7 linked regions of the Homo sapiens genome follow. The protein of the gene in region 1 purifies or fractionates together with the protein of each later gene. This does not show direct contact. Each region holds a gene or a part of one and is shown on either strand. Other genes may lie near its edges. The genes, in order: CLCN2, RAB11FIP2, DMBT1, PSME3IP1, NVL, BPIFB1 and MUC13.

The links.
Region 2: the proteins of CLCN2 (region 1) and RAB11FIP2 purify together in Homo sapiens (affinity purification with mass spectrometry; one large-scale study listed by BioGRID and IntAct). This does not show direct contact.
Region 3: the proteins of CLCN2 (region 1) and DMBT1 purify together in Homo sapiens (affinity purification with mass spectrometry; one large-scale study listed by BioGRID and IntAct). This does not show direct contact.
Region 4: the proteins of CLCN2 (region 1) and PSME3IP1 purify together in Homo sapiens (affinity purification with mass spectrometry; one large-scale study listed by BioGRID and IntAct). This does not show direct contact.
Region 5: the proteins of CLCN2 (region 1) and NVL purify together in Homo sapiens (affinity purification with mass spectrometry; one large-scale study listed by BioGRID and IntAct). This does not show direct contact.
Region 6: the proteins of CLCN2 (region 1) and BPIFB1 purify together in Homo sapiens (affinity purification with mass spectrometry; one large-scale study listed by BioGRID and IntAct). This does not show direct contact.
Region 7: the proteins of CLCN2 (region 1) and MUC13 purify together in Homo sapiens (affinity purification with mass spectrometry; one large-scale study listed by BioGRID and IntAct). This does not show direct contact.

Annotation. Positions count from the first base shown.
Region 1 is NC_000003.12:184,345,685-184,348,645, forward strand, and holds the end of CLCN2 (chloride channel protein 2), read right to left. Parts: exon of another isoform or gene 1,679-2,961; intron 1,338-1,678; coding exon 1,251-1,337; intron 1,117-1,250; coding exon 922-1,116; 3' UTR 501-921; downstream 1-500. UniProt on the Homo sapiens protein: Voltage-gated and osmosensitive chloride channel. Forms a homodimeric channel where each subunit has its own ion conduction pathway.
Region 2 is NC_000010.11:118,012,442-118,015,941, forward strand, and holds part of RAB11FIP2 (rab11 family-interacting protein 2), read right to left. Parts: intron 2,670-3,500; coding exon 2,624-2,669; intron 1-2,623. UniProt on the Homo sapiens protein: A Rab11 effector binding preferentially phosphatidylinositol 3,4,5-trisphosphate (PtdInsP3) and phosphatidic acid (PA) and acting in the regulation of the transport of vesicles from the endosomal recycling compartment (ERC) to the plasma membrane.
Region 3 is NC_000010.11:122,630,254-122,633,753, forward strand, and holds part of DMBT1 (scavenger receptor cysteine-rich domain-containing protein DMBT1 isoform e precursor), read left to right. Parts: intron 1-34; coding exon 35-237; intron 238-707; coding exon 708-1,028; intron 1,029-1,601; coding exon 1,602-1,622; intron 1,623-2,607; coding exon 2,608-2,637; intron 2,638-2,937; coding exon 2,938-3,088; intron 3,089-3,500.
Region 4 is NC_000016.10:57,179,540-57,183,039, reverse strand, and holds part of PSME3IP1 (PSME3-interacting protein), read left to right. Parts: intron 1-489; exon of another isoform or gene 490-1,423; coding exon of another isoform or gene 1,424-1,486; intron 1,487-3,500. UniProt on the Homo sapiens protein: Promotes the association of the proteasome activator complex subunit PSME3 with the 20S proteasome and regulates its activity.
Region 5 is NC_000001.11:224,232,673-224,236,172, reverse strand, and holds part of NVL (nuclear valosin-containing protein-like), read left to right. Parts: intron 1-2,883; coding exon 2,884-2,972; intron 2,973-3,200; coding exon of another isoform or gene 3,201-3,232; exon of another isoform or gene 3,233-3,500. UniProt on the Homo sapiens protein: Participates in the assembly of the telomerase holoenzyme and effecting of telomerase activity via its interaction with TERT. Involved in both early and late stages of the pre-rRNA processing pathways.
Region 6 is NC_000020.11:33,307,214-33,310,371, forward strand, and holds the end of BPIFB1 (BPI fold-containing family B member 1 precursor), read left to right. Parts: intron 1-2,494; coding exon 2,495-2,554; 3' UTR 2,555-2,658; downstream 2,659-3,158. UniProt on the Homo sapiens protein: May play a role in innate immunity in mouth, nose and lungs. Binds bacterial lipopolysaccharide (LPS) and modulates the cellular responses to LPS.
Region 7 is NC_000003.12:124,921,252-124,924,751, forward strand, and holds part of MUC13 (mucin-13 precursor), read right to left. Parts: intron 2,399-3,500; coding exon 2,276-2,398; intron 1,053-2,275; coding exon 946-1,052; intron 1-945. UniProt on the Homo sapiens protein: Epithelial and hemopoietic transmembrane mucin that may play a role in cell signaling.

The sequences.
Region 1 (2,961 bases):
TTTCCCAACCCCTCCTAGGATGTGCGGGCAGTGTGCTGGCGCCTCACAGCCAGCCGGGCTGCCCATTCACGCAGAGCTCTCTGAGCGGGAGGTGGAAGAAAGGATGGCTCTGGTTGCCACAGAGCTGGGACTTCATGTTCTTCTAGAGAGGGCCACAAGAGGGCCACAGGGGTGGCCGGGAGTTGTCAGCTGATGCCTGCTGAGAGGCAGGAATTGTGCCAGTGAGTGACAGTCATGAGGGAGTGTCTCTTCTTGGGGAGGAAAGAAGGTAGAGCCTTTCTGTCTGAATGAAAGGCCAAGGCTACAGTACAGGGCCCCACCCCAGCCAGGGTGTTAATGCCCACGTAGTGGAGGCCTCTGGCAGATCCTGCATTCCAAGGTCACTGGACTGTACGTTTTTATGGTTGTGGGAAGGGTGGGTGGCTTTAGAATTAAGGGCCTTGTAGGCTTTGGCAGGTAAGAGGGCCCAAGGTAAGAACGAGAGCCAACGGGCACAAGCATTCTATATATAAGTGGCTCATTAGGTGTTTATTTTGTTCTATTTAAGAATTTGTTTTATTAAATTAATATAAAAATCTTTGTAAATCTCTATATACATCTGGTCATTGGAGGTTCCAGTTATAAACCCATCTTAGTTCCACCCCTTTCCCCTCAAAGGGGGAGCAGGGGTCAAGTGACCCCAACCCATCCTGCCAGGGCAGGGCCTATCTTCCTGCCTCTGGAAGACTTGTTGCAGGTGGGTAGTGGGTCAGATTCCAGGTAGGATGAACTGGGAGAAGCTGGCACCCCAGGTCTGGAGGGGGCTGGGGTGCAGCCTCCAGCTGTAGCTGCCTCCTGCCTTCCGAAGGCAGAAGGAATGAAAGATGCACATTCTGGGCTGACGGGCATGGCTAGCACCATCCTAGGCCACCCACGAGGGGCTCATTGGCATTTGTCGTCGCTGTCGGAAGGGCTGCCCTCCCGGGGGAGGCCATGACGGGAGTGGGGCCCCCAGAGTGCATGCACCTCAGTGGTCTCCGTGTCACTGCTGCTGGTGGCACTGTCTCGGAAGCTGGCGAGGGGCGGCCGGACTTTCACACCCTGTGCTGTGACAGAGCCCTCGATGGCCTTCCGGAGCTGGAAAGGTGAGAGGGACAGATGTCTGGACCCAGATGTCAGACTCCTCCCCGCCTTCCTCCCCAGGTGAGCTGGACATAAGCCTCCATGACTTTTTGGAAGTGGAGCAGCTTTGGAGGCCACCATCACCTCACCTCCTTTAGAGTAACGATTCCAATGAGTCTGCCAATACTGGTGACATAAGCATGGTCCACTCCCAGCAGTGAGAAGATAGTGTGAGTCTGCAGTGTGGGGAGAAAAGCGATTGGACTTGATGGACGAGGGGCAGCTCTAAATGACAGGCCACAGGGGCCCAGGACAAGGTTGGTGTGGAATAGGAGGGGTGCCCCAGATTGGGAGGGAAGGAGACAGGACTGCTGGAGGGAAAATAATAACAATCGTAATAATAATGAGAATGTTTCTGTGTCCAGGCCTCAGGAACTTGATACTCAAAATCCTTATATTGCTTACACTGACGGAGAAATAGGATGGGGGAGTAATTCTTAGTCCCATGTTAGAAAGGGGGACGTGGGACAGAACAACTGTTCACACGTGAAATCTAGTGATTGGCCAGGCTCCGTGCTAGGTCTTACATTATCATTTAATTCCAGTACTGTCCTGAGAACTAAGCATTAGGAGAAGCAGCATGGGGCTCAACAGTGAAGTGACTTGTTCCAGGCGGGTCCTCAGGAGTGGCTGTGCAGCCCCAGTCACTTTTCATCACACCGGAGAGGGACGCACAACCCCAGTCCTGTTTAGTTGCAGATATACCGAGAAGGGAGAGCCCACACCGACCTTAAGGGCACTTGGGCCCTGAATCCTATGCCTCTCGTTCCACTGCTTCTCAGTTGCCCTCCTACCTGGCTGGCCAGGTTTGGAGTCTCTCTCCCCTGCTCTGGCATTCCAGTCTTGGCCTGAAGCACGCTATGCCTCTCATACAGTCTGCCTTTTCTAGGGTCCAAGCAGCATCCCAAGTTCTGTTGAGATGCAGCTTGCAGTCCAGGAGGACAACGGTCACCCCCATCTTCCCATGTTTTTCTTGCTTTAAGCCCTCCCCTAAGCTTTCACATATAATCACCAGGGGTTCAGAAATTGTCAGCCAGTTCTCCTTATGCTTTAAGTAGATTTTCTTGGGGCCAGATGTCTTGAAAAACGCTCTCCTGACTCAGCAGTTCCTGGAATTTTTGGCCTATCATTTATCTCACTGTTCTGAGTTTACTTGTAAGCCTCTTCGCTTAATGTTTGAATCAAGATGAGCAGTAATAACAGCTTCTTGTGTACCAATTACTCAGAACTCACTTAAATTGCCTTAACACTTTTTAAATGTTCTTACACATTTGAAATTCTTTAGGGAGGGATTTCCAGAACTTTCCTAAATTTCTCCACCCATGGCATGACAGTACTTAGAGGGGCAAGAAGTTCAATTTTAGAATAAGCTCTTCTGGGCGCGATGGCTCATGCCTGTAATCCTAGCACTCTGGGAGGCCAAGGCGGGTAGAATGCTTGAGCCCAGGAGTTTGAGACTAGCCTGCAATATGCGAAACCCTGTCTCCACAAAAAGCCAGACATAGTGGTGCATGCCTGCAGTCCCAGCTACTTGGGGGCGCTGAGTTGTGAGGATCACCTGAGCCCAGGAGGCAGAGGCTATAGTGAGCCATGATCGTGCCACTGCACTCCAGCCTGGGTGACAGAGTGAGACGCTGTCGTCTCAAAAAAAAAAAAAAAAAAAAGTTCTTCTGTGTTTCTTGAATACCTATAACACAGTTGTCATGTGGTTAGCGATTCCTTCTGGCTAACTGGAGTCCTACGTGCTACAAGTTAGCTTTAATTTCCTTGTCTGACTTCAGAGGGAAACGCTTTTATTAT
Region 2 (3,500 bases), on another chromosome or scaffold:
GAGTTCCAGATTTTATCTGATATTTGAAAACAATGTAAACCTTCTAATTTTAGGCATGAGATTCTTAAATTGACTGATATACTCCACATATATATATATATTTCTGTTTGTTGATATAACTCCAAATAAAATAATGATTAAGTAATATAAACAATAGAAAATTAAAACATATGCTCATTACAAAAATTATTTTTTTAGAGAGGAAAACTCTCAGGTAAATATAAAAATTATTTTTTCGAAAGATTATTCTTGCAAAAACTTGCAAAATTCATAACTCTCTAAACTGGCAAAGACCAAATGCAACTTACAATGGTTACTCCAAAGTGCTCAATATTTTTTCTTACAGTACTCCATACAGACAGCACTTATGTTTTTAAGATGTTTTCTTATTTTGAAATTTAATGTAAATTTTTCTTCTCTCTTCCCCTTTTACAACCAACCTTTTCTCATTTCTACTCCACCTCTGTTAAAAATGTCCATATGCAGACATAGAAGATGTGGACTGGTAAGAAAATATTAGAATTACTACATGAAGTTTTCTAACCCAGAATTTTAAATAATACAGTTTTGCATAAGATTTTGAGAACTGCTAGTGATCTATTTTTGCTTTACACAGTCTAGCCTTTTAAACTAGGAAATGTACATTTTTTACAATATTTAAATTTAAACAAAAGCAAATTATCAAGACTCAAAATAACTGAAGATTTAAAGAAAGGTTGTCCTGGTAACCAAATATTGGTGGGGTACTAACTGACATCCAAGGCAACTAGAGGAGAGAGAGAAAAAAAAATGAAGGCTTGGCATTCTCTGATCATCTCATTATTGTTCTAATGAGGAACTTTGCTCTGGGAATATCATCTCAGCTACTTTCACATCTTTTGTCCTACTCCCTTCATCTCCCTTTCAGTTCTTAATTAGGCCTTAAAGAGCTCACACTGCCCTTTCAACTGGCTACTGCTCCTGTTTAAACACTGTGCTTTCACAGACAGGTGTTGGCACTAGCATATAAGACATACAAACTTAATTACAAAATACTATGTCCAGAGGGAGAAAAAATAACTTGGTGGATGGCTATTATTGGAGAACTTAATGTAAATTACTTCAAACATCTTATAATCTTCAACATAAAAATTGTTCGAATGCTTTTCTTCAATCATGATCAGTACGAAGATGCGCTTCCTCCTCTTAATTGTATCTTGCAGTAAATTAACAACACCTAGTAATCCTTTAACTGTCATTTAGAATAGTTAGTATTCCAGAGAAAAATAATCACACATCAAGGATTCTTTTATCACCTTTAAATCCTTTAACTAAAACAATTTTCACATTTTATTTCTTTAAAGAATTCTAAGGATGCTTCTACAGCAATAAATTACAAGATTTGGAAAAGTACATTTACAAGCAATCGAAATTGTAATTAAGGTTACTTAATAAACAATAGCTACACATTAAATCGATTTTTTTGATGTTGCATTTTGTTTGAGATTAAGTAACCGCCTGATAGAATTCATTTTACTATCTGATCAAAGGCTGACTTCATATTTTCTCACATTTCTCGCCAGACTGCCATATTATAAAGACTTGAGAATTTATAAAACATCAAAACTTACGAATCGTTTAAATAAAACAGCAAAAACACAGTACAAAGTCCTGTGCTTCTGTAACAGTTTCCACAATTTTAAAGATAAACAACTGCATTTAGAATGGTTTAGAAAATAAACCCTAAACCCACCTTAGCTTCTTCTAGCCATGTCACATCCTAAAAAATAGTGATATGTGATATGGGATTGCCTAAAAAAATTCTTACTATACATCTGGATCGCACACATCAAGGACAGATGGTTGAAACAGCAACCACCAGTGTCTTGGAATAAAGCCTCTATTTCTGTTATTCAGTGAGAATTTAGTTTTCTACCAAGAACGTTTGCCCATATTTTGGCAAAGTAATTTATTCTCTACGTTTAATATAGTTAGAATTGATTGCAGATGCAATGGAACTCTGAACAGAGATTAAATACTGGACTTCAAATACTACAATAAAGTTCAGATTATCTGAATAATCCTTGCAAAATACGTGAGTTGATTTAGGTGGTCGCTACCAATCCTGTTAACATATTTGGTTTTGTTCTGACGAGAAAGATAAGTGTCCTAAAGTATTTGTTCTTTCAAATACTTTCCTGGTTATCTGGCTCTCCTGCCAGGATGCTTTTCTATTGTTGAATGTTAACAAGCAGCTTTATTCTTTCTTCAATCCTTGTCCCAACAACAACAAAAAATAGTCTTTTCTACGTGCTCTTATTTCATAACCACAAATTTGACCCTGACATACAGCTTGCATATTAATTTCAAAAGTCTGTAAACAAAATATGTATATTCTAAATTGGCTTCAATTATAACCAATTTTGCTTGAACTTTCATAGATCATACGAGTCACACCCTATTGTATATTAAAGGCAAAGATTGTATTTTACTTTCTTTCTTTCTCCTAAAATTACTACGCTAAGCTACAATTCTTAGGTAAGTGAGGCAGAAGGCAAGAAGACAAAGGCATTTTTAGAAATGTGTGCCAGAGAAAAAGACCAGCTTACTCTTTGACAACCCTCTAACCCCTTCAGCAACTTACCGGGATTTTCCTGAGGTCTTCATTGCTTGTTGGACTCATATGAAAACTAATAAAACACAAACAAATGTTAAAAGTGTCATAACTCATGTGGGAGGAAACATAAAAATAGAAAAATTTTAACCAACATTGTAATACAAATTTCTAAAGCCCTACATTATTCAGAGGAGTGAAATTTAATCCAAGAAGTAGAAAAAAATCCAGTATTTCCCCAACATTCTTAAAGCATCATTACAATTTCAAACTTTGAAGGAAAACTTTTTAGTTATCAGAACTGAAGAATGAAATAGGAAGTTTCTAAACAACTTTAAACATAGCACTTTTATCCAGCAAGATATTTTGCAAAACTAATTTGTGTGAGAGATTTCCCATTATATTTACACACAGTCACTCACCTTAGGCCCTCTGATATAAAACTAGGGAGAATTAAGTAAATTTAGGTTGGAAAGATTATAGAATAAAAGAGTTAAAGCAATCTGTTTAAAAATGCCATAAGTGTTAGAAAACTCAGCTTTCAAACATTACCCTATCAATAAGAATAAATTCAGAATTGTGGGAAACATTTCTCTCGTTAATGTGATTTCTAAGTAGCTAGTCTTGAAAATTTAAATACTGAAACGAATCAAAACAACACAGATTTCTCCCATGCAGAGAAGAAAACATCACAGCTGAATGCTATAACTATTTTCTTCTTTGAAACATGTCCATTAGATGGGACTGCAACCAAAAGACGCTAAACTTCAAAGCCATCTGATGAGTAAATATTTCATCGGTGCTATTCAAGTTTAATTTTTACCCAGCACTTAAAGGTATTAGCCTTTAAAACCTTCACAAAGCATTAGTGTCCTAAGAACCTTTTTATTCCATGCACAAAACAACA
Region 3 (3,500 bases), on another chromosome or scaffold:
TCAATGTTGACTTGAATACATTTTCTCCATACAGATTGGAGGCACACCATAACTGCAGTTTTGATTATGTTGAAATCTTTGATGGATCATTGAATAGCAGTCTCCTGCTGGGGAAAATCTGTAATGATACCAGGCAAATATTTACATCTTCTTACAACCGAATGACCATTCACTTTCGAAGTGACATCAGTTTCCAAAACACTGGCTTTTTGGCTTGGTATAACTCCTTCCCAAGCGGTAAGTGCACACTAGACCATGCCTATGAGGCTTGGTGGATTTACCCAGCTGCCTCTTTGGGGGCACCATGGTTCCCCAAGGAAATCAAAGAAGGGCCTCAGCGATGCACGGCCCATTCTCTTTCTCTTGGCACTGACTGTGTGGGCAGGCCCTTGGGAAGGCAGCAAAGGGTGCAGACTGGGGGTTCCACCTGGCCTTGGGTCTGCCACCAACTCTCCAGGGGACCTGGTGACTCTCCTTCAGAGCCACCCCTCTCCGTCTGGAGGTGAGGGGATCTGAGCTTGGCGATGTCTAGAGCCCCTTTCAGCTCTGCATGGAGCGGTCCAGTACCTCCACCCCAGCTTTTCCACATTTCTATTTGGCGACTTTAGAGGTGGGAAAAGGCCTGTGGGATGCTTGGCCTTTGAGGTTTGTTGTGGGACATTTGTTGTGGGACATGGCCATGATCTCTCAGTTAATGTGTCTTTCAGATGCCACCTTGAGGTTGGTCAATTTAAATTCATCCTATGGTCTATGTGCCGGGCGTGTAGAAATTTACCATGGTGGCACCTGGGGGACAGTTTGTGATGACTCCTGGACCATTCAGGAAGCTGAGGTGGTCTGCAGACAGCTAGGGTGTGGACGTGCAGTTTCAGCCCTTGGAAATGCATATTTTGGCTCTGGCTCTGGCCCCATCACCCTGGACGATGTAGAGTGCTCAGGGACGGAATCCACTCTCTGGCAGTGCCGGAACCGAGGCTGGTTCTCCCACAACTGTAATCATCGTGAAGATGCTGGTGTCATCTGCTCAGGTATGGCCCAATGCCATGGAAGGCCCATTTCACCTGTAACTTGCTATAAAGCAAGAGCTTAAGGCCAGTGGCTGATGGTGTCTGTGGCCCAGGCAGGAGCTGGTCATTGTGTCCTCGTGGCCTGCGCACTCCAGAAGAGCATGCAGGGGGCTGCTTTATCTTTGGCCAGTTTCTGGACCCAGGGCCATTATGCTGAACACTCATCTGACTAAAGGACCTCCAGCAATGATTTTACTTCTTTATGCTTCAGTTTCCTTGACTGTTGAGTCGGGGTGGCTATGATAGTACTTGCTACTGGTGACAATTGGGATGGTTTTAGAACAATCATGGTCAAGGAGAGAGTGATGGGTGTTATGACCTCAGCTGTAATCCTGATGACCACAAGTATGACGGGACTTAGGGAGCATCTGGGGAAGCTGGGAAGGCTTCTCAATAGCAATTGCTGGGTGGACCTGGGGACCCTCGCCGAGGGGGGTCAGGTTATGGGCCATGTAAGTGTATCTCTGTCTCATTCCGGCCCCTCCTCCAAGCCACATGTCTGTGACCTATGCTTTTTTTCTATTCCTTTTTCAGGAAACCATCTATCGACACCTGGTAAGTCCCTCCGATTTCCATTCCACTTCCCTGGTCTCCAGGTCTCTCCATTACTGCTGCCTAGACTGTGCAGGGCATGTTGCTCACTCTCCAAGGAGTTCATCTGTGGTACCATCCTCTACAGCCCCTGTCCCCTCCCCTGCCGGCCACCAGGATAGTGTGCCCCTCTCTGTGCTTCAGTGGCCTGACCCACCTAAGATTAGGATCTCCAGTCAGTCCCGAGGTGAGGCCCGCCACCTGTCAGATTTGACTGTCCTCACAGACACCAGACCCTGACCAGTGTTGGCCAAATGGGGCCCACTGCATCGCAGAGCTCCTCCCTGCCTGCCCCTGAGCTGCTCTGAGTGTTCCCAGCATGGCCCTGGCACCTCTCCAACACCCCCCACTGCCCCGCCCCCTGCTTGCTTTGTCATCCCCTCCTGGCCTCCCATAGCAGCAGCTTCAGGCCTGTGCCCTCCCATCCATTCTCCACTGTGCAGCCCCTTCAAGAGATTCCTCAGGGTCTTCTGGTGATGACCCCGCTCCTCAGCACAGCATGACTGCCAGGGCTCCCCATGATCTGCTCCCTATGCTTGGTGCCCTCTCCCCATCCTCTGCCTGCTCCATCTACACGGAGGTTCCCAAATCTATTCCACCCAGGTGCAGTTGCACCTGCTGTTCCTCTGCCTGGGACACCCCGTTTCTACCTCTTTGCCTGCCCCCTAATTACTGCCCTTTTTTCCCCACTCCATCTGGGGCAGGGGCCAGACTTCCAGGCTCCTCTCCTTCCCCAGGCTTTGGTCAATCTCATCCTTTTCCCAGTGTGCTGGGATTCGCTCTCCTCCAGACCTCCCCAAAGGCAAGTGAGCTCCCCAAGGGCAAGGCCTGTGTCCAGCTCCTCCCTGTGGACTCAGGCTTGGCACAGCATCTGCACAGCTCATGAGCAGTCGACAGCTGTGTCAGGGATGCCAGAAAACTGATCCTGATCTTTTCTTTTTGTCAACAGCTCCTTTTCTCAACATCACCCGTCCAAACAGTAAGTTCTGAGCTCCCTGACAAGTCTGTGGCAGAGTGGCCTGGAAATTCCCCTTCCCATTTCCTCAGTGACAATGGGGCTGGGGAGGAGATGGCTTCCCCCAAAGTGGTCTCCCTGCAAGAGTGCCCTGCCAGCCCTCAGTGGACGGTCCAGATCTAGGCCACCTCTTGCTCTTACTTGGTTTCTGTCTTGGGAATTATTTTATAAAATTTTAAAGTAATTTAAATTTAAAGTAGTCCGCAGGTAGACTGTGCAGTGTGCTCTGGGGGTCACCGACATTCCCACTTTTTGTCCTGACAGCAGATTATTCCTGCGGAGGCTTCCTATCCCAACCATCAGGGGACTTTTCCAGCCCATTCTATCCCGGGAACTATCCAAACAATGCCAAGTGTGTGTGGGACATTGAGGTGCAAAACAACTACCGTGTGACTGTGATCTTCAGAGATGTCCAGTAAGTGTGCGCCCAGAAGAATGCCTTGGGGCCCCACAGACCTTTCAAGAGGGAATAAATGGTGCTTAAGTGTGCGCCCAGAAGAATGCCTTGGGGCCCCACAGACCTTTCAAGAGGGAATAAATGGTGCTTAGAAAGCCAGGAGAGAAGTTTGCTGAGAGACATTTTTGACCTAGCCCAGAGGCATCCCGTGGAGAGTTGGGGAGGGGGCACGAGAGCCTTGGAGTGGACAAAAGCTCTGGTTTCAAGTCCTAGGTCTTTCACCAATTTGCTGTGTGACCACAGGAAGTCACTCAACTTTCCTGAGCCTCAGTCAAAAGAGGGGAATAAAATACCTGCTTTCCTCACCTCACTGTTTACTGGGAAGGTCACGAGAAACAGAGAGGAGAGAGAGGGAGAGAGATGTGAAAAT
Region 4 (3,500 bases), on another chromosome or scaffold:
GCTGTGTGCCAACCTTATGTCTTTTACTGAATGAGTGTAAGTTCCTCAGTTGCCTGTTTAGTACATAGCATTGTATCTTGCACATAATAGGTTCTCGGTAAATATTTGCTTCAAAAATCTTTTTTCTTTGAGATGGAGTCTCGCCCACTTCGCGCAGGCTGGAGTGCAGTGGCGCGATCTCGGCTCACTACAACCTCCGCCTCCCGGGTTCAAGCAACTCTCCTTCCTCAGCCTCCCGAGTAGCTGGGATTACAGGCATGTGCTACTACGCCTGGCTAATTTTCATATTTTTAGTAGAGACGGAGTTTCACCATGTTGGTCAGGCTGGTCTCGAACTTCTGACCTCAGGTGATCCACCTGCCTCAGTCTCCCAGAGTGCTAGGGTTACAGGCATGAGCCACTGCGCCAAAAAAAAAAAAAAAAAAAATCTTAGTTGGCCTTGTCTGGTTATTGTAATGCAAAGTTTTTTTTTTTTTTTTTTTTTTTTTAAGGGAAATGGGTATCTCCTTATGTTGCCCGGGCTGGCCTTGAACTCCTAGGCTCAAGCAGTCCTCCAGTCTCAGCCTCCTGAGTAACTGGGACTGCGTTTTTTTGTTTTATTTTGTTTTTAATTTGGTCTTGAAGTGGAGTTATATAGGGTGGGGGGAGGGAGGATGGAGTATGACTTGAGGTGTGGGTTAGGTTCTGAAGCGAGCCTAGATGACAAAATAGCTTACAAGCAAAGCTACCCTTGAAATCTCAGGGAGGCAGCATGTTAATTGTAGGAATACCAGTGTTGCAGAACTCTGACATGGCCAGTGTGATATTGTAAAATACATATTTGGCCTTCATCCCTGTCTCCTGTGGCATATGACTCCTATAATCCTTGAAATCTCCAAAATGATTAGTGTCTTTTTATATGCTAAGGAGCTGACTGATGGCTGGCAGCCCCTAAGTAACTTTAGCATGGGGGCTGGTCACTTGAAAGACCCAGGCAGGATTAGAGGGTTGGGACCTTCAACCAATGTCCAACCTCTGGGGAGAGGAGAAGGCAGACGAGCTGATGACCACCAGCGTCACTGGTTTAATTAGTCATGTCTAAGTAATGAAGCTTCCATAAAAATCCAAAAGACTGGGATTGGGGAGCTTCTGGATAGGTGGACATGAGAGGTTCCTGGATGATGGTGCCCCAGAGAGTGCATGGAAGCTCTGTGCCCTTCCCACATGCCTTGCCCTATGCATTGCTTCATCTGTATCCTTTGTAATATGCTTTTATAATAAACCAGTATATGTAAGTAAAGTGTTCCTCTAAGTTCCTCTAAGTTCTGTGAATTGGTCTAGCAAATTAATAGAACCTAAGGAGGGGGTCATGGGAACCCTGATTAATAGCCAGTTGGTTAGAACTACAGGTAAAACAACCTGATTCTTGTGGTTGGTATCTAAAATGGAGGCTAGTCTTGTGGGACTCACCCCTCAACCTATGGGATCTGACGCGGTCTCCATCCAGGTAGGTAGTGTCAGAATTGAACTGAATTAGAGGACACCCAGCTGGTTGGTGTCTGCTACAGAATTGGTTGGTTGCTTGGTGTGTGGGGACATATCCCTCACAGAATTATACTGTGTTGATTGTTGAGTGAGAGAATAGCAAAAATGCTTTGGTTTGGTTTGGGTTTTTTTTTTCTCTATATCCTCAGGCAAGTTTTATTTCGGCTTTGGAAAAAACTGCTGTTTTTCTTCCTGTGAGCCCCAGATGAAGTTGTTGGTTTGTATTTAGGAGTCACAATATGTAAAAAATACAATGAATACAATCATTCATGCATAGTGAGGGAAGTATTTATATTCAGAGAGGTGCATGTGAATGAGGATCAGCTAAGGGAACCGATATTTAAATTAGTTATCTTTCTTCTAGTGTGTATAGGTGAATTCAAGATAAATGCACATTTGAGACCCTGCCCTTGTGCTATGGAAAGATAAATAAATCAATACTTTTTTTTTAACTTCTTTTTTTTCCCCCTCGCCAGGCAAGGTCGGTCTTGTGCTGTTGCCCAGGCTGTAGTGCAATGGCCCTCATAGCTCACTGTAGCCTGGAACTCCTTGGCTGAAGCCTTCCTCCCACTTCAGCCTCCTAAGTAGTGCACCATCACACCTGGCTAATTTTTAAATATTTTTGTAGAGAGAGAGTCTCACTGTGTTGCCCAGGCTGGTCTTAAATTCCTGGCCTTAAGTGATGCTCCCAGCTTGGCCTCCCACAGCTTTGGGACTGCAGGCATGAGCCACTGTGCCTAGCCTGTTTGTCTGTTTGTTTGTTTGTTTGTTTTTAATAGAGTTGGGGTCTCACCATCTTGCCCAGGCAGGTCTTGAACTCCTGGGCTCAAACAATCCTGCCTTGGCCTCCCAAAGTGCTCAGATTGCAGGTGTGAGCTAGTGCACCAGGCCTTAATTTCTTTTCTTTTTTTTTTTTCTTTTTCTGAGACGGAGTCTTGCTCTATTGCCCAGGCTGGAGTGCAGCGGCGTGAAATCTCAGTTCACTGCAACCTTCGCCTCCTGGGTTCAAGCGATTCTCCTGCCTCAGCCTCCCAGGTAGCTGGCATTACAGGCACATGTCACCACAGCCAGCTAATTTTTGTATTTTTAGTAGAAATGGGGTTTCACCCTGTTGGCCAGGCTGGTCTTGAACTCCTGACCTCAAGCGATCCTCCTGCCTCAGCCTCCCAAAGTGCTAGGATTACAGGTGTGAGCCACCATGCCTGGCTGAATTTCTTATTGTATGTGTTTCATAGATGCCTGAAAGATTATTGCAAAGCTGAATTTTTTATTGTATGTGTTTCATAGATGCCTGAAAGGTTATTGCAAATTGCTCCTTATGATAAACATTTAAAATATGGATTAAATTTCTTTTTCTGTGGTTTAGTTTTTAGATTCTTTTAGTCTCCTTTGCTACCGGAATATGTTAATTAAGCTTTGGTGTTAGAAGATTGACTTCACTTTGCCTAGTAATAAATACTAACAGCGGGCTCTCTGTTAGTAGTTGTTGTTCTCTAAATAAATTTTATGATATAGGAAAAGTCAGCTAAATTTTTAAAAATCTAAATAACTGTATCTTGGTAGAAGTGCCTTCTGGCCAGAAATAAGTCTTTATTTGAAATATAGATGAGTTAGCCAGATGGCAAATTCCTCTTAGTTGCTGTCCTGCATTTTGAAGTACAGTGTGACTTGAACATCAGAGTAAAAAATGTTGGAAAGCAATAATCTATATTTACTCACAAAAGGAAATGGATTGACCTATTGCTTTTGCTACTGAAAGTGAAGCCTTAAAACAACAGAACACAGAAACCTGATTCTGGTGTGTTTTAACATGTACAATCTAATTAATTTTAGAATTAGAAGGATATGGTGGCCAGTGATGTAAACACTCAAGTAGTTTGCCATCACATAATTCAATTCCATAGGAAACCAGATCTCATTACTTTGTGTCATGGCACTAGCTAAATGGAGTCATTTTTCAAGTTAGGAATAGCAAT
Region 5 (3,500 bases), on another chromosome or scaffold:
GATGCATTTTCACCTCCACATAGCCTGTAGTAACATCAGGAAATCTGACATTTCTGCCTTCATCCTTCCTATGTTTGTGTTGTTACAGTTATTAGTTTTTCTTCATATGTTTTGAAGTAAATTTGTTTGTTAACTTTCCCAATTTGGGGACACAGAGGGAGGAAATGAAACTCAAGTTTAACTAACAGAGACAATGCCCCCTCCGGCTTTTTGTTTTCTTTTTTTTCTTTTTTTTTTTTCCATACAGGGTTTCCCTCTTTCACCCAGGCTGGAGTACAGTGGCATGATCATGGCTCACTGTAGCCTTGACTTCCTGGGCTCAAGCAATCCTCTGACCTCAGCCTCCTGGATAGCTGGGACTACAGGTGCATGCTACCATCCCCAGCTAATTTTTTTAAAAAATTTTTGTAGTTTTAGGGTCTCGCCATATTGCCCAGTCTTGTCATGAACTCCTGAGCTTAAGTAGTCCCTCATGCCTCAGCATCCCAAAGTGCTGGGATTACAGTGAGCCACCACACCCGGCCCTTTTTTTTTCTCTATTATGTCCTTCCAATGTAGCAGTGATTCTCAGTGAAGAGAAACTGATCAGAGTCTCAGGCAGGGGTGGTGAGGGGCAGATGTAAATGCCTCTACCTCCCCTTAAATAGGATGTGCCTCACCCCCTAATTAGGAATCAAATCCATACGAGTCTTTATTTAAATGATGTGGCCAGGCACAGTGGCTCACGCCTGTAATCCCAGCACTTTGGAGGCTGAGGTGGGCAGATCACTTGAGGTCAGAAATTTGAGACCAACCTGGCCAACATGGTGAAACCTTGTCTCTACTAAAACTACAAAAATTAGCCGGGCATGGTAGTGCACACCTGTAATCGCAGCTACTAGGGAGGCTGAGACAGGAAAATTGCTTGAACCCAGCGGGTGGAGGTTGCAGTGAGCTGAGATCGTGTCACTGCACTCCAGGCTGGGCAACAGAGCGACACTCCATCTCAAAAAATAAAAATAAATAAAATTAAAAATAAAGAAATGGCCTTATGCTTAGGAGACTACTACTTGAGTAGTTTACTGCTTTAAGGGTGGGAGCAGTGGCTCACACCTGTAATCCTAGCCCTTTGGGAGGCCAAGGCAGGCAGATTGTTTGAGGCCAGGAGTTCAAGACCAGCTTGGGCAACATAGTAAGACCCCATCTCTACAAAAAAAATAATAATAATACAGCTTTAAGTGCTCAAATCTGAAAAGATTTTCGGTGAGTAACAGGTGATTTTGGTGGCGGAACTTGCCCTGGGCTAAATCTTTTGGATATACCAAGTAGGCTATCAGTCTGTGAAGGGGTTAGGGCTAAAGTTGAATGGTGTACATTTTGGATTTTCATGCCACTATAATTACAGTTTGAGAGACACTACACCACTACAGTCTATAGCTATCTGCTTGTGTTAGTTAATGGTGTTTCCACCAATGTTAGATTTCATAGTATGGGAAGGAATGAATACCCCAGCAGGTATGTGATTATTAAATAATGTTATAACCCTAACATTTAGCCAACAAAACACCAGATTCAGTTAAAAATTTAAGCTCTGTGGGTCTTTACTTTTATATAGTATGTGTCTGAGGCAGGAGAATCACTCATACCCAGGACGCAGAGGTTGCGGTGAGCCAAGATCACACCACTGCACTCCAGCCTCGGTGACAGAGCAAGACTCCATCTCAAAAAAAAAAAAGTTATATAGTATGGGGATTATCAACATTATATAATAAGTTTAATGTCCAGAGATGAGGTTTTTTAAAAAAATTTATTTTTCATTTTCATCTTTTCTTTCCAAGACTTGTGAATCATAGAAGTGATGTTTTTATCCCCAAACTCAAACTCTTTCTCATATAATCTCTAAGAACCCTGTTACAGCTGTAATGTAGTGAAACTCCAGTCAACATGAGTGTCTTTCATTGAACTCAGAACTGTGCTGACTCAGCATATTATTACATGAACTAATTAAATAAGTGAAGGCCTGTTTTGTATTTGTCATATTTTAAGTAACTTATGATGTGTTCATTCAGTTTTAACTTGAATCAGGTGCATTAAAGACTTTCCAGGGTTTGTATTTTTCCCTTCTGAACTTGGAGCCACAAGTGACTTTTTGGGGGGTTTTCTTGAGACAGGGTCTCACTCTGTCACCCAGGCTCACTATAGCCTTTGCCCCCCAGGCTCAAGCAATTCTGCCATCTCAGCCTCCCAAAGTGCTGGAATTACAGGCATGACCCACTGCGCCCAGCCCATAAATGACTTTTTAATAAGCTTACTTTAGACATTATGTAATACATGAATATGCTAGTCAGCACTTTAGCCCTTTATGCATTGTATTGTTTCCTCCATAATTTCCTTTCTTCTTGAGTTTAGTTTTTTTTTGTTTTTGTTTTTTAATTGGGACAGAGTCTCACTCTGTTACCCAGGCTGGAGTGCAGTGGTGCGATCTTGGCTCATTGCAACCGCCACCTCCCGGGCTCAAGTGATCCTCCCACCTAAGCCTCCCCAGTGCCTGGGACTACAGGTGCATGCCACCATGCCCAGCTAATTTTTTTGTAGTTTTGTAGATATGGCATTTCTCCATATTGCTGAGACTAGTCTCAAACTCCTGTTCAAGTGATCCACCCACCTCGGCCTCCCAAAGTGCTGGGATTATAGGCGTGAGCCACTGCACCTGGCCTAGAAATATCTTATATAAAAGCTAAGAGCTCTTTTCTATTGATTGATAATCAATTTATTTCTCATCTTTATTGGTCACTTTTTCTCCTGATTATTTAATATATGACTTATATGAAAACTGTTTTCCGGGTTTTTTTCTGGGATTTTGCAGTATCTAAGAATAAGTAGATAACTATTATTTTATTGTAGGGGCGCAGATCTCTCTGCTTTGGTACGAGAAGCTTCTATCTGTGCCCTGAGACAGGAAATGGCAAGACAGAAGAGTGGAAATGAAAAAGGTACAATTCTCTCCAGAATCTCTCAATTCTAATTATGATACTTAAAACCACTGTTGCCCTGGAAAATGACCATTTTCTAGTGTCTATTATCTATGATATTAAAGCTAACGTTTTTCTAATAAGACTGTTAGAAGCTGTTCTGAAATATTAGGTAACCTCTGTTGCTGACAATTATAATAATAGCAAAGTTATTTAGTACCTCTCTAATAAAGAGTACTGTCCCTATAGGCAAATGGATCCATTCGCTGTCTTCATCATGAGTCTGGGCTGCTTATCAATTCTGGAAAAACGTATTCTTTTGCTAAGGTGATATCTACTTGCCTGTTAAAATGCAGCCTAAATTGGAGAGCTTAGAAAATACACAAGAGAAGTGAAATTTGGAATAACTTTCCATATGTTGAGACTTTCCTTTCAAAATATAAAATCTGTGTATTGTGTTATGTGATGCTTTGGGGCCATCTCAAAAGCTTTGCACCATCCTTCACATTTGACAGTGTCTTTAATGTTATTATTTGAGTGCATATGGGG
Region 6 (3,158 bases), on another chromosome or scaffold:
TTCATTCATTCATTCATTCATTCAGTAATTCACTAAATATTTTTCGAGGGTCTTCTATAGGCAAGCCATGCTTCTGAGTGCTTGAGGCCACCGAAATGAACAAATGGAAAACACTCCCATCTTTTTCAAGCCTACCTTTTAGCAGAAGAGGCAGATACACAAGCCCTAAAGATGTAACATCAGGCTGAGTGGAGGAAGGCTGAGAAGAAAAATAAAGCAGGCTCAGGAGGAGAGAGTGATGTCAGGGAAGGGGGTGCTGTTTCAGATGGGGTGGCCAGGGAGGGCCTCTCTGAGGAGGTAACATTTGAGCCAATGCCTGAGGAGGTGAGGGGTGAGCCCTGTGGGTAGCTGGGAGAAGTGTCCCGTCAGAGGGACAGCGTATTAGGCCGTTCTCACACTGCTATAAAGAAATACCTGAGGCTGGGCTCAGTGGCTTGTGCCTATAATCCCAGCACTTTGGGAGGCCAAGGTGGGCAGATCACCTGAGGTCAAGAGTTCGAGACCAGCCTGGCCGACATGGCAAAACCCAGTCTCTACTAAAAATACAAAAATTAGCTGGGCGTGATGGCGGGTACCTGTAATCCCAGCTACTCGGAAGGCTGAGGCAGAAGAATTGCTTGAACCCAGGAGGCGGAGGTTGCAGTGACCTGAGATCACGCCATTGCACTCCAGCCTGGGCAACAAGAGTGAAATCCATCCCCCCCCCAAAAAAAAAAGGAAAGAAAATAAATACCTGAGACTGGGTAATTCATGAAGAAAAGAGGTTTAATTGGCTTGTGGTTCTGCAGGCTGTACAGGAAACACGATGCTGGCATCTGCTCAGCTTCTGGGGAGGCTTCAGGAAACTTCCAATCATAGCGGAAGGCAAAGGGGAAGACTGCACATCACATGGCCCAAGCAGGAGCAAGGGGTGGGAGGTGCTACACACTTTTAAACAACCAGATCTCACAAGAGCACACTCACCATCACGAGAACAGCACCAAGAGGATGGCGCTAAACCATTCACAAGAAACCAGCCCCATGATCCAATCAGCTTAGACCCCACCTCCAACATTGGGTTCTACATGAGATTTGGGCGGGGACACAGATCTAAACCATATCAGATGTCAAGTGCAAAGGCCCTGAGGCAGGGATTGTTGGTGTTCCAGGAAAGATGAGGAAGGAGGCCCAGGATCTGAGGCAACATCCAAGGCAGGTAACCTCATAGGCCTGAGATGCATGCATGCACACACACATATACACACACACACGCACACCTTTATACACCTATACACATACATACACACGCACATACAAACACATACACCTTTATACACATACATACACACACACACCTTTATACACCTATACACATACATACACACGCACATACAAACACATACACCTTTATACACATACATACACACACACACCTTTATACACCTATACACATACATACACACGCACATACAAACACATACACCTTTATACACATACATACACACACACACCTTTATACACCTATACATATACATACACACACACATACATATTGCACACATACACACCACACACATACACACTACACACACACACATAATACACACACCACACACATACACACTACACACACACATACACACACACATAATACACACACCACACACATACACACTACACACACACCACACACATACACACATACATACACACACATACACAGAGACGCACACATACACATATACACACATACACACACTACACATGCACATACACATACACACACACACACACACCATGTGGCCAGATGGTCTCAGCTCAAGGCCAGGATCATGTCCATCTTGTCCATGCCTCTGTCCCCGGTGCTCAGCATGGCCTGGCACACAGTAGGTGTTCAATAAATGCTTGGTGAGCAAATGACTCTCCGTGGCATCTGCTGGGGAGAGGATCTATGGCAGTGTCACCCTCGCTCCCAAATACTACCCTTAAGAAGAACAGCTCACAGTCACTGTGTGCCAGGCTCTGGGGCATCTCTCCCCCTCTAGAGTGGAGCCAAAACTTCAAGAAGGCAGGGGTTTCTGTCTGCTTTGTTCTCTGTTGTGATCAGTGGCTGCACACAGTAGGTGTTTAGTAAATGCCTGCTAACTGAGATGGACACCTTACTGTCATTAGCTCATGCAGAGGAGGGGCCCAAAGCAGGGGGTGATCAAGGCGGGTGCTAAGTGCAAATCCCACTTCTGCCACCTACTGAGTGCGTGACTTTGGAAAGGGGCTTTTGCCATCTTCAAGTCTCAGTGTCCCCATCTGCAAAATGGAGATGACATCAGGACCTGGTGTGGCATTAATGTTCACACACAGACCCTCCACCCCGACCCTTCTAAGAATTCTGTATTTGTGGGTTCAGGGTCATGGTCCCCCGGTGCCAGCAGTCACCTTATGGAGGACAAAACCAGCATAAACCACAAGGCAAAAGGTTAAAGAAACCTGTTTTCTGACTTTTCCCCTCCAATTCCAGGATGCCCTTGTGCTTACTCCAGCCTCCTTGTGGAAACCCAGCTCTCCTGTCTCCCAGTGAAGACTTGGATGGCAGCCATCAGGGAAGGCTGGGTCCCAGCTGGGAGTATGGGTGTGAGCTCTATAGACCATCCCTCTCTGCAATCAATAAACACTTGCCTGTGATGCCTGCCGTCTGGAGTCTCTTTGTCCCGGCACAGGAGTCATTTTGCCCCTGGCAGGCTTGGGGACTGGATGGCTGAGCCACACCTGGGTCATGTTCAGGCACATCTGAGCCAATCTGGGTGATGTCTGGGCCACATGTGGATGATGTCCACAGTCTTGACCACCTCCCTGTGCTTCAGGAATCAGAAAGCCAGCTCTTCCCACCTGCCTTCATGTCAGCCTCAAGACCATCTTCAGTGGGATGGCTTTTAGGGTGGGGGACATATGTTTTGTTTATCTTGGCAGTGTGGTGGACAGAGGACTCTCTGAACAATGTGGATCTGGGGGCAGATGAACTAGGCTTGGAGCTCTGGCTGGCCTCTTAATGCTTCTTTGACTCTGGGATGTAGTTTCCCCTCTGTGGGCCTCAGTTTCCTTCTCCGTAAAATGGGGATAGTCATTGTCTCTGCCTTGGAGGGCTTTGGTGAGGAGTAAATGAGAGAACAGTTCCAGATACATGG
Region 7 (3,500 bases), about 59 Mb from region 1:
AGATTCTCCTGCCTCAGCCTCCTGAGTAGCTGGGATTACAGGCGCCTGCCACCACGCCTGGCTAAATTTTTGTATTTTTAGTAGAGATGGGGTGTCACCATGTTGGCTAGGCTGGTTTCAAACTCCTGACCTCAAGTAATCTGCCCGCCTCATCCTCCCAAAGTGCTAGGATTACGGACATGAGCCACCATGCCCAGCCTCCACCTCAACTTCTAAGACATATTTAAGGCTAATATTTTTTCCTTTAAAACTGAACTTTGAGCTGTATTGGCTGGACATGCTCTGAGGGTCCTTCCAGAGCTAACATCTGTGGCTGCAGAATGGAAAGACCCTTTCCTTTCATGCTTGCTCACATGTGTGCACTTGCTCACAATAATCTAAATGATGGGAAACTATTGTTCATGCCAACATTTTTGAAAATGGGAAAAATAAGTAACAGATATTCAGATGTAATTCTTCTTCTAGACATTTTTTTAAAAGCCAGACTAGTATGAAAATTTATGCAAATTTGAATATAAAAAAGAAAAACAACATCTTTAAATTTTTTCTCTTTCATTCTGTGGAAATAATTTATTTTAAAACTTCATGATATTTATCTGTCCATTTAAAACTGTGTTAATAGCTTATAAAACAATGGGTATGGTATGGCTGGAGCCAGCTTCTGCAGGCCCTCTGCCATGCCAGGCCAGGTGCCACGCCTCCAGGTGCAAGACCATGGGGTGGTCCAAGGGTCCCAGGGGAGAGGCCTGGGCAATGAAGAAGTGGTGGCACCGGTGGAGGCGCTCAGGACAGCTGCTGTTTACCGACCAGTAAAGGTACATTTCACTGTTTGAACAACTGGTACGATGGTACGAGCGTGAACCACCTGAAGACCAGCTCTACACTCTGCAACTCAGTGTTAGAACAAAGAATGCTTTACAGAAAGGAAAGTTGGAAAATACTTACCAAGCTAGTAATTTCACTATGCAAGTCTTGATAGGCCATGGAATGTTTCTCTTCTGGGTCAAATGTTTCTGATACTGTCACTGAAATCTTCCCAGGGAATACCTTTCCTGAAAGTTAAGCAGAATCTTTCTGTACTATTTGATGAAAAGAGGGTCATTTCCATTTTGTTTTAAAACATAGATTATTTTTTAGAATTCCCAACATTATATAACGACACTACAGGAAATCTGGAAATATTTTAAAAGTTACCCATCATCCTGCCCAACCTAGCACAACCATTTTAATTTTGGTATATTTCTTTCCATTTACAGTTTACATTGTTGTAATTCCAAGTTTATGCCATATTTTTTTTCTTCTTATTATATAATAGGTATTTTCCAAATCGTTGCCTAGTCTTTTTTTTTTTTTTTTTTTTTGAGAGAGAGAGACAGATAGGGTCTTGCTCTATCACCCAGGCTGGAGTGCAGTGGCACAACTGGGTCACTGCAGGCTTGAACTCCTGGGCTCAAGTGATCCTCCTGCCTTGGCCTCCCAAAGTGCTGGGATTACAGGTGTGAGCTCCTATGCCTGGTCTCATAACCATCATTTTTAAAGGTTGCATAATATTCTGTGAAGTACATGTCCCCTTCCTTGATGTAATCATTTTTTGTTATTGGACTTAGTGCTTTTAATTATTTAAAAGGAAAAGAAAAAGTTGCAATGAACATCTTCACACACAAACTGTTCTTCTGTATTTGGGGTCACTTACTTAGAGTAAATCCCCAGGAGTGAGATTATTAGTGCTAAAAATATGAGCATTTGGGGGCCTTTTGGTATATCCCTAACCCCAGTGGGCAATGCAATGCATTCATTTCTTATAGAATTGGCTGCTCTGGAAAATGAAGATATTTCTCATTCATAAAACAGAAAAAAAAAAAAAACAGAACTCAGACAGTCAGCCCTCAGACCTTCACTGCACCCTGGTGATCTAATCAAAACATCATTATGCCACAAGTGTATAAATGTACTCCTGAAATCCATTTTTAGAGCTGAAGGGCTCTTATGTCTCTAAGAGGGGGATCTGATGTTATGGAGCAAACAAATCTTGTGACACAGAACTGAAGATCAGGCTCCCAGGGTTGCTGGACTGTGTGGTCTTTGATAGATCACCTTGTTCTGCCTCAGTGTCCCTAGGTAACAGCACTTTTCTCTACTTTGCTGGCCTTTGTTGCCTCTGCATTTTCTTTATCTCTCATATTTTGGAATCTCCTTTTGCCATCATTTTGAGTTTTCGATTCCACTTTTGGTGTGAGATACAGAGCTCAGCCATGGCTCATCCCTTGTAACTCACCTTTCTTACATGTAGAAGAGTTGTAGTAATACCCTTCTAAACACAGGCAAAAACTTGTATTATGCAGCTTAACACATAACGAATTATCTGCACAGGGATCATCTTGGCAAGGATTGCTGGGACCTTAGATGGAGTAGAAAGAGATTAGAAATCCAGAGAAATGACAATAAATAACAACTGGAAACGTATTTTTCCATCTTCATGCCTCCCCCCTGGGCCCTTTCCATTCCTTGCTTGTGTTACTCCACAGCACACTTTTGGAAGAGTTAAAAACAAATATTTGCTTGCTTAGGTCTCTAGAGAGTTTGTTTCTGAAATTCTAGAGCCAAGTATAATACTTGTCAATAGTAAAGATCAGAGATTAGTGTACAAGGGCTTGCCCAAAGAAAGAGAGATTGCAGTCTTCTGACTCCAAGGAGTCAGGAATCTTCAGATCTCAAAGTCCCTCCAGAACCTTGAAGCATGGTCCTCTAACACTAGGTGGGGCTCCCCAAAACATTCTAGATAAAACATCTTATTTTTAGAAAGGTATGAATAATTGTCATATAGGAAGAAACAGCCAAGAAGCTCCAAAAGAAACTAGATGTCACATTCTGTTAGGCATACCTAGGAGACATAGCCATAAAAACAGGAATGGGATAGTAAAGGAGAGAAATGTGGATTAACTCAGTGAAAATTCTAAGAGGCCATGAGAAGACATTCCAGCCTCTGGCTTTCTAAGTGGATCATCTGAATAAATGGTGAAAATAACACTGCAATGGGTTCTACACTGTGGGCTGAGACTCCCAGGCCAGGCAGGGTGTAGCATCTTTCTTTCTCTGGGGAACTGATGAGATCTGAGGAGGAGAGTTAGCTCAGTGGTCCAGTGGTGATCTGGGCTATGAGTTTTCTTCACTTCTGTCAAGTGGAATGATTCTGAGCTGTGATGTCAGAATAGCTTATGTGTTTGATAACCTTCAGAGCTGTCTTGAGAGTCTTACAAACCTATATGTAGAAACCACTGATTTCTTTAAAAGCTGTATGTAAGGTACAATGTGTATAACATGCTCTCTTTTGTGAATAAAAGAAGGGAAGGATTATACACAAGCAAATATTTGCTTATATTTGCATAGGTAATTTCAGGAGGGAGATACAAGGAATTGGGCACAGAAGTTGCCTCTGGGGAAGGAAACTGGGGGTCTGGGTCCTGGGGGTTTAGGATGAGAGGGAGATTTATTTTTTATTG